Homo sapiens: one gene and its partners. The protein of the gene in region 1 purifies or fractionates together with the protein of each later gene. This does not show direct contact. Each region holds a gene or a part of one and is shown in the gene's direction. Other genes may lie near its edges.

The links.
Region 2: the proteins of NCR3LG1 (region 1) and RYK purify together in Homo sapiens (affinity purification with mass spectrometry; 4 studies listed by BioGRID and IntAct, with this or other methods). This does not show direct contact.
Region 3: the proteins of NCR3LG1 (region 1) and PIGG purify together in Homo sapiens (affinity purification with mass spectrometry; 2 studies listed by BioGRID and IntAct, with this or other methods). This does not show direct contact.

What each region holds. Positions count from the first base shown.
Region 1 is NC_000011.10:17,368,800-17,372,399, forward strand, and holds part of NCR3LG1 (natural cytotoxicity triggering receptor 3 ligand 1 precursor), read left to right. Parts: intron 1-67; coding exon 68-165; intron 166-3,206; coding exon 3,207-3,600. UniProt on the Homo sapiens protein: Triggers NCR3-dependent natural killer cell activation.
Region 2 is NC_000003.12:134,160,158-134,163,985, reverse strand, and holds part of RYK (tyrosine-protein kinase RYK isoform 2 precursor), read left to right. Parts: intron 1-3,828. UniProt on the Homo sapiens protein: May be a coreceptor along with FZD8 of Wnt proteins, such as WNT1, WNT3, WNT3A and WNT5A. Involved in neuron differentiation, axon guidance, corpus callosum establishment and neurite outgrowth.
Region 3 is NC_000004.12:501,982-505,809, forward strand, and holds part of PIGG (GPI ethanolamine phosphate transferase 2, catalytic subunit), read left to right. Parts: intron 1-3,736; coding exon 3,737-3,828.

The sequences.
Region 1 (3,600 bases):
CAGTTGTGTGGTTTCTCTGGCCCTTGCCAGTAGGTTTCCTGCTAATGTTTTCCTTCTCTCTCTGCAGAAACTGAGAAGACAGATAATTTTTCCATTCATTGGTGGCCTATTTCATTCATTGGTGTTGGACTGGTTTTATTAATTGTTTTGATTCCTTGGAAAAAGGTAAGGGGCTCCAAAGCAAAGTTCAGCCCTGTGTCTTGGGCTAGTAAAAAGCTTTTAGAGCAGCTGCTGCCAACCTTACAAGCCTCAAGGGACAGGCCTGCTGGAAAGGACTTTGTCAGTCCCTCTTCACCATCAGGTGTTGGGAATGTTGGCTGTGTTCCAATCCAGTTTCCTATCACAGAGGACCTAGCTGTCACATACCATCTGACCTCTGTATGGTGGTTTGTGACTCTGGGGTGATGTGTTGTAAAGCCTCCCTCTCTTTCTCCATACTAAACAAGTATTATATCTCTGTGAATGAACCAGACTTTAGTGTTCAGACCAGGCCCTGAACTATGTGTGGACTGCTTGTTTTTCTCACACATTTAGAAACTATGGCTTAGAGAGGGGAATTCCTCATATTTTATCTGATCAATAACTGACCACCAGATCTCACTAGTTTGACTAAGAATTTCTAACCCTCACTAGGTATTTCTAAACTAAAACATGTTTCTAAACATTTTTATCCCTGACTATGGCCCAAATAGTAAATAAAACAGCTCAAGCTTTAGAGGCCCAAGAGACCTATGTAAATGTGTTGGTTAAAATAGTTTTAGATAATAAAAGGGCCCTCAATTATTTATGGGCCTGTCAAGGCAAAATCTGCACAACAGCCAGTACATCTCATTATAAATAATTTAGGAGAAGTGGAATAATCAGTCAATTAAGAAAAATGGCCCTTTATCTAAAGTTGGCCATTTAGATTCACGGGACTTATTCCTGTTGGATCTAGGCCATGAGAAAACTGGATAAAAAGTGGTTTTCAAATGTTTCTTGTGGTATTTGTGACTGTTGTCATATTTCTTGCCTTTCTCTGGTTCTGATATTCAGGTGCTATTGAGAGAGGAGGAAGGAAGAAACTAGTCAGGCAGGCAGTTAGGGTGGGCCCTCAGTCAAATTCCTTCAAACAAAAGAACAGCCTGAAAAATCAAACTGCAGATAAGGGAACTTGTACAGGGGGGCTTGCCTAAAACATGCCCACAGCCACATACATTAAAACAAGGCTACACAGGAGACTTGCCTAGACATGCTCACAATAGAAAATTCCATCCCCTGACACATGCACAGTAAGGGGAACAAAGCCACATGGAGTAACTCAAGCTAAGGGCTTGCATGCACACTACGAGGATGGGGTGGAGCTACCAGAAATGTGTGCCTTATGCCTTTGTATTCAGCTGTGAAATGGCAACCCTCTTTTGGGCCCCCTCTCTGCAGTGGAGTGCTTTCTTCTTTTGCTTATTAAACTTTCACTTCAACTTCATCTTTGGGGTCCGCGCTCCTTAATTTTCTTGGTCATGAGACAAAGAACTTCAGGTGATACCTTGGGCAATGAGAGACTGCTACATTGTGGTGCATTGACGAGACTAACATTTTGGTGCATTGGCCAGGAAACATTGGAAGGGTGAGTAGGAGCGGACCTCCAAACTCTTTACTTTCATTTCAGAGGCTTCTTGTCCTCAGATTTTTTCCTGAAGACTGAACAAAACACTGGGCCAGTTAAAAGCTTTTAGAGCGGCTGCCAACCTTATGAGACTTAAGATACAGGCTTGCTGGAGAGGACTTTGTCAGTCCCCCTTCACCCTCAGGTGTTGGGAATGTTGGCTCTGTTCTAATCCAGTTTCCTTTCACAGAGGACTTAGCTGTCACATGGGCTAGAAGGAGGTCCTGGGGCAACTGAAGGTTTCTGTTTGAGGCTACTCCTCAGTGTTACCTGAAGGTCCCTGGACTAACTCCAGCCCCCGACAGCCCGTCAGAATGTTGGCACCAGGACTTCCAGACTTTTCTATTGCATTTTCTTCCTTGCTTTTCGCAGCTACTATGTCTCCTATTCCTTCTTTGTATGCAATGTTGTGGGTGTCTTTATAGCCTGGGGAGATAATCCTGTTAAGCAAAGTCAGCAAGTGCCTTAGTAACGAGGAATGTAACTCAAATAATTGTTGTTTTTGTGATTTCCTTGAGACAGGGGGACTTCAAGATTTCAGCCTAAATTTTCACTTAGGGCCTTTTTGTCCCCCAGTGATAGACATTCATGGCACTCTATAGGGGGATGTTTCACCCCAAGTGAATACCCTTTTCTCCATCAGGTTGTTTTTCCTTCATGTAAGAGCTCAGCATTGCCCAATGAATTTAAGCATTCCCTCTATGAGACAAACTAGTTTTTTTTCTACTGGACAGCATATTATGGGGACAGCCTATTAAGCCCCAAACCTCCCTTTCTGACCTCTGCTTGGAAAGAATTTGTAGTCAGAGTTTTTTCCTAACATTTCAAACCCTATAGTGCTACCTAGTGGGATGGGATTTTTCTCTGTGAGAAGCCTTGTCAGCCCTTTGCCCAAAACCTCTAGTTCCCTGATTCCTTTCTCTCTTATGTCCCTCTTTCAGTGATCAGGCCCCATGCCCTATTTGTAAGCATAAAAACTCCTCTTTCAACAGCCAGGAAGAAGCTACCCTGGGAAGACATATTTTAGCCTCAGTGTTATCCCCATTGGAGGGAGAACAGCCATTCAATTTTTACATTCTTTTGAGGCATCTGTTCTGTACACAGCTACACTGGCATCTAAGTGAGAAAGGGATCTTGTGTTTAGAAATCAATCAGTCTCATTCTCTAGGAATTCATAACTTTGCCAGGGTGGTAGTAAGAGGATGTAAGGATAGAGTTAAGATGTTCCCTTCCTTAAAGGGTCTTGCCCCAATCCAACTACTGCACAATCTCTCCCATGGTTCTAGGGAATCTCAGGAGCCTTATGGGCCAAGTAGGTCTAGGAAACCAGCAGGGCAGAGAGCTAGGACCTTGTGCAGGTGAGCACAAGCTAGCTCCTCCGGATTCATGGGTGAAGGTCATGCTTTGATCCATGGGCAGCACCTATAATGGTCACCAGGAACCTGAGGAAATGGGAGGGAAGAGGAGAAGGGGGACGCCCCTTCCATTTTTCTCTCTGCTGTCGATCACTCCAGAAGGACAAAGGAGACTAAGGGATGCCTTTTCTCTCCTCTTTTTCTAGATATGTAACAAATCATCTTCAGCCTATACTCCTCTCAAGTGCATTCTGAAACACTGGAACTCCTTTGACACTCAGACTCTGAAGAAAGAGCACCTCATATTCTTTTGCACTCGGGCATGGCCGTCTTACCAGCTGCAGGATGGGGAGGCTTGGCCTCCTGAGGGAAGTGTTAATATTAATACTATTCAACAACTAGATGTTTTCTGCAGACAGGAGGGCAAATGGTCCGAGGTTCCTTATGTGCAAGCCTTCTTTGCCTTGCGAGACAACCCAGATCTTTGTCAGTGTTGTAGAATTGACCCTGCTCTCCTAACAGTTACATCAGGCAAGTCCATAGATGATAATTCCACAAAGTCTGAGAAACAAACCCCTAGGGAACACTCGGATGCAGTTC
Region 2 (3,828 bases), on another chromosome or scaffold:
AATAATGTGATCCAGGCTTCAGAATTATTAAGATAGGACAGAGGAACTGGACTTTTTAGCAAGCACCCCAGATAATTCTTCTCCTTCTTATAAAACACTTAACCCAGGTTCATTTAATTGCACTTTGGTAATCTGCAGCCATGTCTTTATGTGAGAAAGGGATATTAGGTTTCTAATATGAACAGAAAGGCCTAGCCATGGACCACCTGATGATGCTTCCACTGTGGTCAGATAAGATAATTTACAATTGAATGGAATTATTTTCCTTTCAGTTTATAGTTTACTGAAGTGAGCCTTGCATTGTAAGTTCCTGAAGTAATCACTGGAAATGTCTTAATTCAGTAGCTCCATCTTTAGTTAATGCTGCACTAAAAGAAAAAAGGAATTTTACTTACATACTTTTTGACAAGTCACATTCATATATGTTTTAGTGGAAAAACTGTTTTACATCTTATATATAGAAGCTGTAAAATAACATGTTCTGGGGAGAGGAATAAGATGAATAGAATAACATTATAATTATCTAAATGTTCTTTAAATGGAGATAGCCACAATCTTTCGTAAAACTCTGGAAAGAACAGCATGACCTTCTTATTGCCCCCTTTCCACCGACGTCAAACAGAAGGAAATTATAGAATAAGTCTGTCTAAATTTTAAATGGTTCAGTTATCGGAAGACCTTAGAGAGCAAGTTTTCCACAAATCATCTCTGCGCCATTTTGTCTTGATTATTTTTTTAAGGGTTGGTTTGCCAACATGTAATTAATCACTTTTGTTAGTTTTTAAGGAAATGAAACTGCATTGTTCCCTTTGGCTTGACTGTTCTTTTTTATGGCGTCTTTTAGTGTTGTAGTTGTAATATGAAAACCTTAGGTAAATGTTGGGCAGTAATGTGAACAAAACAGTGGGAAGGGAGTAATTTTTAAAAGCTTATCTACATTGCTGCTGTAATACTTACATTCAACTCCAGATCTCAAATACCACCAACTTTAATATCAAAGTCCCTTAAAGTCAGAAGGTGTTATAATGTCAGTGGATGGGGTTATTCCCTGTGTACAAAGAGTCAGGATGCACTTGTCACCAATTCCCATGGTTTCTTCTTCCAAAATCTAGTTTGAATGGATCATTTCATCTCTGGAGGAAGGGATGGGAGCACCCTTCCGACCAGTTTCATTTCTTTGGGCTCTGTTCCATCTGTGCAGGGAACTACCTTCTCTATGGAAATTGGACACGATTTTAAAAATAAAGCATTGCATTTACTAATGACTGTCAGTATTAAGATTTCATGTAGATCTTGTTGCTTCTCAGAAAAAAGTTTCATATACAGTAAGGTTTTAAAGATAGGCAAATAACTAGTTGTGAGCAGGCACCATCCTTTAACTTTTATTAATTTGAAATCATTTTTCCATTTTTAAGCAGAATAGAATGTCCCAGTAGGTGTAAGGGAAATTTCAGTAGCCTCCAAGACTCTGTGGAGATTTTGAAACTATACACGCTTCTCCATCTGTCGCCTGCCCCCTCCTCCCAGAGCATAGACTTCAAGGCTGGACTTTGCTCCATGTTAATGATCACTGTTAATGAAAAAGATAATAGGTTCCAAAAGGCTGACCACCTGTTTTTGGTATTTAGGGTAATGCTGCTGTCAAAGTGAATGAGATATATTCCTTCCTCTGTGTTCTGAAAGTTTACGTAGGGTTGGGTGTGTAATGGGTTGAATTGTGTCCTGCGTCTCCACCAAAAAAAAAAAAAAAATGGTTGAAGCCCTAACCCCCAGTACCTCAGAATGTGACCTTATTTGGAAATAGGGTCATTGCAGATGTAACGTTAAGATGAGGTCATACTCAATGAGTATGAGCTCTAATCCACCCTAAGAAAAGAGACACACACATGAGGAGAAAATGTCACGTGAAGATAGAGGCAGGGACTGCAGGGCTGCAGCTGCAAACCAAGACACACCAGGGGCTTCCGGCAACCACAGGAAGCTGGGAATAGGCAAGGAAAGATTCCCCCTACAGGTTTCCGGGGAAGCACAGCCACGCTGACACATTGATTTGGACTTCTAGCTATCAGAGCAGTGGGACAATAAATTTCTGTTGTTTAAACTACTCGTTTGTGGTATGTTATTATGGTAGCCCTAGAAAACTAATACAGATTTATATTTTCTTTCAAGTTTGATAGAATTCACCAAACAGTGTTGAGTTTTCTTTGTGGAAAGGTTTTGAATTGTGAATTCAGTATCTTTAATAGATGTAGGGCTATATAGATGTTCTGTTTACTCCTGTGTCTGTTTTGGTAATTTGTATTTTAAGAAATTTGTTTATTTCATTTAAGTTGCTGAATTTATTGGCATAAAATTGGATTGTTCATAATATTTTTTGATGTCTTAAAGGATGGTGTTCCCTCCTTTATTTCTGATATTTTAAATTTTTTGTTGTTGTTCAGTCTAACACAGTGGTTCTTAACTGGGACAGTTTTGCTCTGGCTAAGGACATTTGTCTGTGCCAAGGGACATTTGGCTATGTCCGGAGGCATTTTGGGTTGTCACAGCTTGGAGGATGTGCTACTATCATCTAGTGGGTAGAGCCCAGGGAGAATGCTAAACATCCTACAATGCACAGGACAGCTTCTCACAGCAAAGAATCCTCCAGCCCACAATATCAGTAGTGCTGAGGTTAAAAAACCTACTCTAGGCTTTATAGTGTAAACCTTCTATTTTCCAAAAATATTATATCATTTCATGTTTAATATAGTGTTTCCATTCATCCCCTTCCAGTCTTCAAACTGGTTGTGGGCATACCTTTTACTTCTCTGTATATTATAAACCCCACGATATATTGTTAGCTGTTTTTGCTTTAAATAGTCTGTCAAGGAAATTTTAACATAAGAGAATATGTTCAGTTGTTACTAATATATTTTCAGCACTCTGTATTCTTTGTGTTGACTCAGATTTCCATGTGGTATATTTTCTTTCCACATGAAGAACTGCTTTCATACATCTTACAGGTCTGCTGGAAACATAGTCTCTCTGCTTTTATTTGTCTGAAAAACTCTGTATTTATCTTCATTGTTGAAGTATATTTTGGCTCTATATAGAACTTTCCATGACAGTTTTTAATTTTTTTTTCTTTCTTTGAGACAGAGTCTCGCTTTGTTGCCCAGGCTGGAGTGCAGTGGCGCGATCTCGGCTCACCGCAACCTCCGCCTCCCGGGTTTAAGCGATTCTCCTGCTTCAGCCTCCCGAGTAGCTGGGATTACAGGCATGCGCCACCATGCCCAGATAATTTTGTATTTTTAGTAGAGATGGGGTTTCTCTATGTTGGTCATGGCTGATCTTGAACTCCTGACCTCAGATAATCCTCCCAAAGTGCTGGGATTACAGGTGTGAGCCACCGTGCCTGGCCCTAAAATATTTTAAAATATGTCATTTCATTGTTTTCTTGTTTGCATAGATTCTGGGGGGAAATGTAGCTATTGTTCACTATTATAAGGCTTTTAAAAAAATCTGTGTATTTTACAAAGTATTTTGGGATTTTGTTGTTATTGAAAAATAATAACCTAAAATTTAATGCAACATGTTTAGATTTTACAAACAGACTTGTATTTGACTTGCGTTTGGTATTTCTCTTTTTTCCTTTTCTTTTTTTCACTTTTTTCTCTTTTACTCATTAAAATATGTATTTTGGGGCAAGCTATTTCTCTGAGCCTCAGTTTTCTCACCTGTAAAATTGAGCTACCAATGATTCTCACAGGTTTATTGAGGAAATTAAATGTATTGAAGGATGCAAAATGATTTGAATTTGTAGGTACTCATAAACCTGATACTACAGTA
Region 3 (3,828 bases), on another chromosome or scaffold:
GAGTTTTTGCCGTCCTGCTGAAACTAGCTGTGGGAATCTGGAAGAAAGACATCCAGCCCCTGATTTTCAGGAACACCGGTTTCTTTATCTGCTCTATCAGAAGTGTGGAAGGAACCCTTTTCTCCTTTTCTTTTAAGATTTAACAGGCAGATTTGAGAAAATGTATAAGTGATTGTGCAGGTTCTAGGTTCTATTCAGACCAGTCCGTTGGCACTGTGGTTCTTGGGGCCTCTGTCTCCAGCTTATTGGTTTTATTTCACCTTTGCTGGGGAGCCTCACCCCAGAGCTAGTGTTTTGTTTCATTTTCAGTCCTTTGAGGATTCTTGCTCCTTATTTCCCCATCAGGGAGGAGCTAGAACAGAAAGCCCATACTGGAGTTAGGATTGTACAGCTCTGGAGTTTGGTAGGTTGGGGTTGGGCAGTGTTGGTTGAGGAAAGTGTCCCCTGCCCTGCCTCCAGTCTGAGAAAGGGCTCAGAGCATCTCCTGGTGTTGATACATTTGTAACCAGACGCCAACCCTGACATGTCCAGTGTGCTTTCACTTGCTAAGACCCTGCAGCAGCTTTGTTTTAAAGTCATGTAACTCATTTTTGAATGCCTTTTCTTTCTTAAAGAACTTTCTGGTCATAATAATAGCTGGCATTGATTGACAGACCTGAGCTTTCCCTTAGATTTCTTAGGACTGTAAATGCAGCCCACTCGCTGTCTGCACGCTTTCTGGGATGAGGGGATGCCAAGTAGTCCCTACCCTCTTTAAAAATATCGGTGGGAACCCAAGCTAGTGTGAGGATGAGGGAGGTGCCTTGTAAAAGCCACAAAAGAAGGGATGAAAACAGAAAACTTTTATATTGTCAAATGTTGTAAACAAAGTCAACAACATGATAAACTGAAGAAATTATTGACAGTGGACATGGCATACAAGATGTTAAGTCCATGATGTATAAAGAGGTTCGGATCAAGGAGGGACAGTCCTATGGAAACTGGGCCGAGTATATAACGGAATCCACCAAGGAAGAAAGCGGAATGGCCAATAAGCATATGCAGAGATTCTTGACTAGTAATCAGAGCAGGGCAAACAAAACAACCCATATGCCAGTTTTTGTTTATCATATTGTAAAAATTTAAAGATTGATGATCTCTACCCCGCACAAGAAACGAGGTGAACAGGTGCTCTTGAAATACTGTGGATGTGAATACAGGTTGACTGAGCTGGTATCTCCACTGCCACCACCGTCGTCCAGGCTGCTGTGGGCTCCAGCCTGAACTGTTATAAATGCCCTAGCACCTTTTCTTGGCCCAAATCACTTCTGGACACAAATCAGACCCTGCTACACTACTCTTTAAAACCCTTCAGTAGTTTACGCTCTGCCCAGTTTGAACACTGAACCCCATCACCCGTCCCTCAAGGCTCTGCGTGGCCTCACTCCCGTTTACCTCTTCATCCTCATATAGGCCCCCTTCCGTGTTCCCTTGCCCTTCATCCACACAGGTCACACGCAGCTCATTTCCTCCCGGGTGCTGCTGTCTTTTCTGCCTGGAGCCTTTGCAGTTTGCAGGTGTTTTACTCTGGAAAGTCCCACCTCACCTCCACAACTTTTCAACCTTCAGGTCTCAGCTCAAGTGGCACTTCCATAGGAAGCTGTTTAAAATAAATGCCCAGTAAAATGGTCTTGGTTAAATACGTTATTGTACAGCTACACACTGGAATGCTCTGTAGCTGTTTGGAAAAAAGATAAAATGCTTGTGTTTTCCCTAGGTAAAGATGTTCATGATGTGTTATTAATTGAAGAAGTTTGAGAGTAATTTGTATAGTTTGCTACCATTTTGGTAAAAAATGTGTACCTTCATATATTTGTGATTTTATACACACACACACACACACACACACACACACACACACACACAGAAAAGAGTCCAAAAGGATACTCACCAAGAGTAATTGGCTGCCTTTTAAGGAGTACAATTTTGGGGTGAGGTTCACATTTTAAAAAATAACTATTGAAATATAATTTTTATACAATTACATTTTTGCATGTACAGCATTTAACAAATGTGTGTATCCAGGCAAACCCCACCTCAGCTCAATTCTGGCCCCACCCTAGGAATGTTGGTGGCTGTTAGGGTTATTTTGGTTGTTTGTATAGTGAGTTCCTGCAGTCTGTCTCCCCGGGAGCGTGCGGCAACTGATGTTTTGACTTAGGTCTTTTGGTTCTTTTGGTTTTTAAGTTCTTGTTTTTATCTTTAAGCCTGTCTTCCTGAGTGCTGGCCCTGGCTCCGCATAGCTTAGTGGTCAGCCACTGATTGGTCAGAGGTTGTGCTTCAGCACCCCTGATGTGTTTTCATAACCTCCCTGGGTGTGGGGCTTCTCAGTGGCTGCTGCAGCGTGGAGCTGGAAAGGAGGGAAGTGGGAGCCGCCCTGTGTAGAAACACCATGGGCACTTGCTGTTCTTACTGAGATTCCGTGTTTTTTCTTAAATAAGCACTTCTCAATCTGTTCTATAATTTTGGTGAATTTCCAAAGTACTAAAATGGTTGCTTTTGACAGTTTCATCCAGTTTTATTATTGCTCCTGGGAGAGAGATTTTGCCGAGCTCCTCCCTGTGGCATTCCAGAAGTCTGGATAATTCATACTTGCATTTATTTATCGTTAAAGATGTCTCGGTAAAATTATTTCACCTGCTGATGTTACCCAGGTTCCCGTTTATTTTCATTGCACAGGTTCCAGGATGCCAGTGCTGGCTGGGGTGGCTGTATAACTCTAAATCACAGAGATCTGTTACCCATTACCATGGCCTCTTAGGTTCTATGCTAAACTCAGGGAAATTCTTGACTCAATTCTATTATCAGAAGGGTATAAGGGCAAGTCACCTCCCACCCCTCCCAGAAAATATGGGGCAACATTGAGGGTGGGAGCAGAAGAGACTATCCCAGTGGCCTCCCTGGCCCCCAGTTCACTTTGCAAATTGCTGAAAGTTCACGCTTTAGGACTGCTTTCATCCTGGTTTTCCACTCAAAGGTAGACATTGGAATTGCTGGATTGTTAGGAGTCGTATGGACTTTGCTTGTCACGTGGAGATTTGAATCTTAATTGGGACCTGGCAGAGGCTTTGAATACACAGGTTAATGTTTCTAATGTATACCTCACTTTGCCGTTTGCTTCAGCTACATCGCAAACCCATAGCTGCTTCTCTGGCTGTTGCCGTCGTCTCGCTATCCCTAGCCGCCTCCTTTAACCTCTTGTCAGCTGGAAAGATTATTAGGAGCCATGAATGTCCTTTAATATGGTTATCTTTGTTACTATTGAGTTTACAGTTTTTCACCAGAATCTATGTGCCTCTTTCTCTTCTTTACCCTAATTACTGTCCTAACATTGACCCAGCCACCAGTACTAGGGATGCCCTAGCTTTATGCTCACCTATTTTATCCATAAAAAATCTTCAGACCAGCCTGGGCAACATAGCGGGACCCTGTATCTACCAAAAAAAAAAAAAAAAAAAAAAAAAAAGCTGGGTGTGGTGCCACACACCTGTAGTTCCAGCTACTTGGGAGGCCAAGGTGGGAGGATCGCTTGGGCCCAGGAGTTCAAAGCTGCAGTGATCCCTGATTGCATGACTGCACTCCATCCTGAGCAACAGAGAGGGACCCTGTCTCAAAAAAAAAAAAAAAAATCTTCAGTGCCCTTTTCATGCTCCGGTTTTGGATTCAGTGGCCTAATTCTTGCATTTTCTGACTGCAGGCATTGATGACGGGGAGCCTTCCTGGCTTTGTCGACGTCATCAGGAACCTCAATTCTCCTGCACTGCTGGAAGACAGTGTGATAAGACAAGC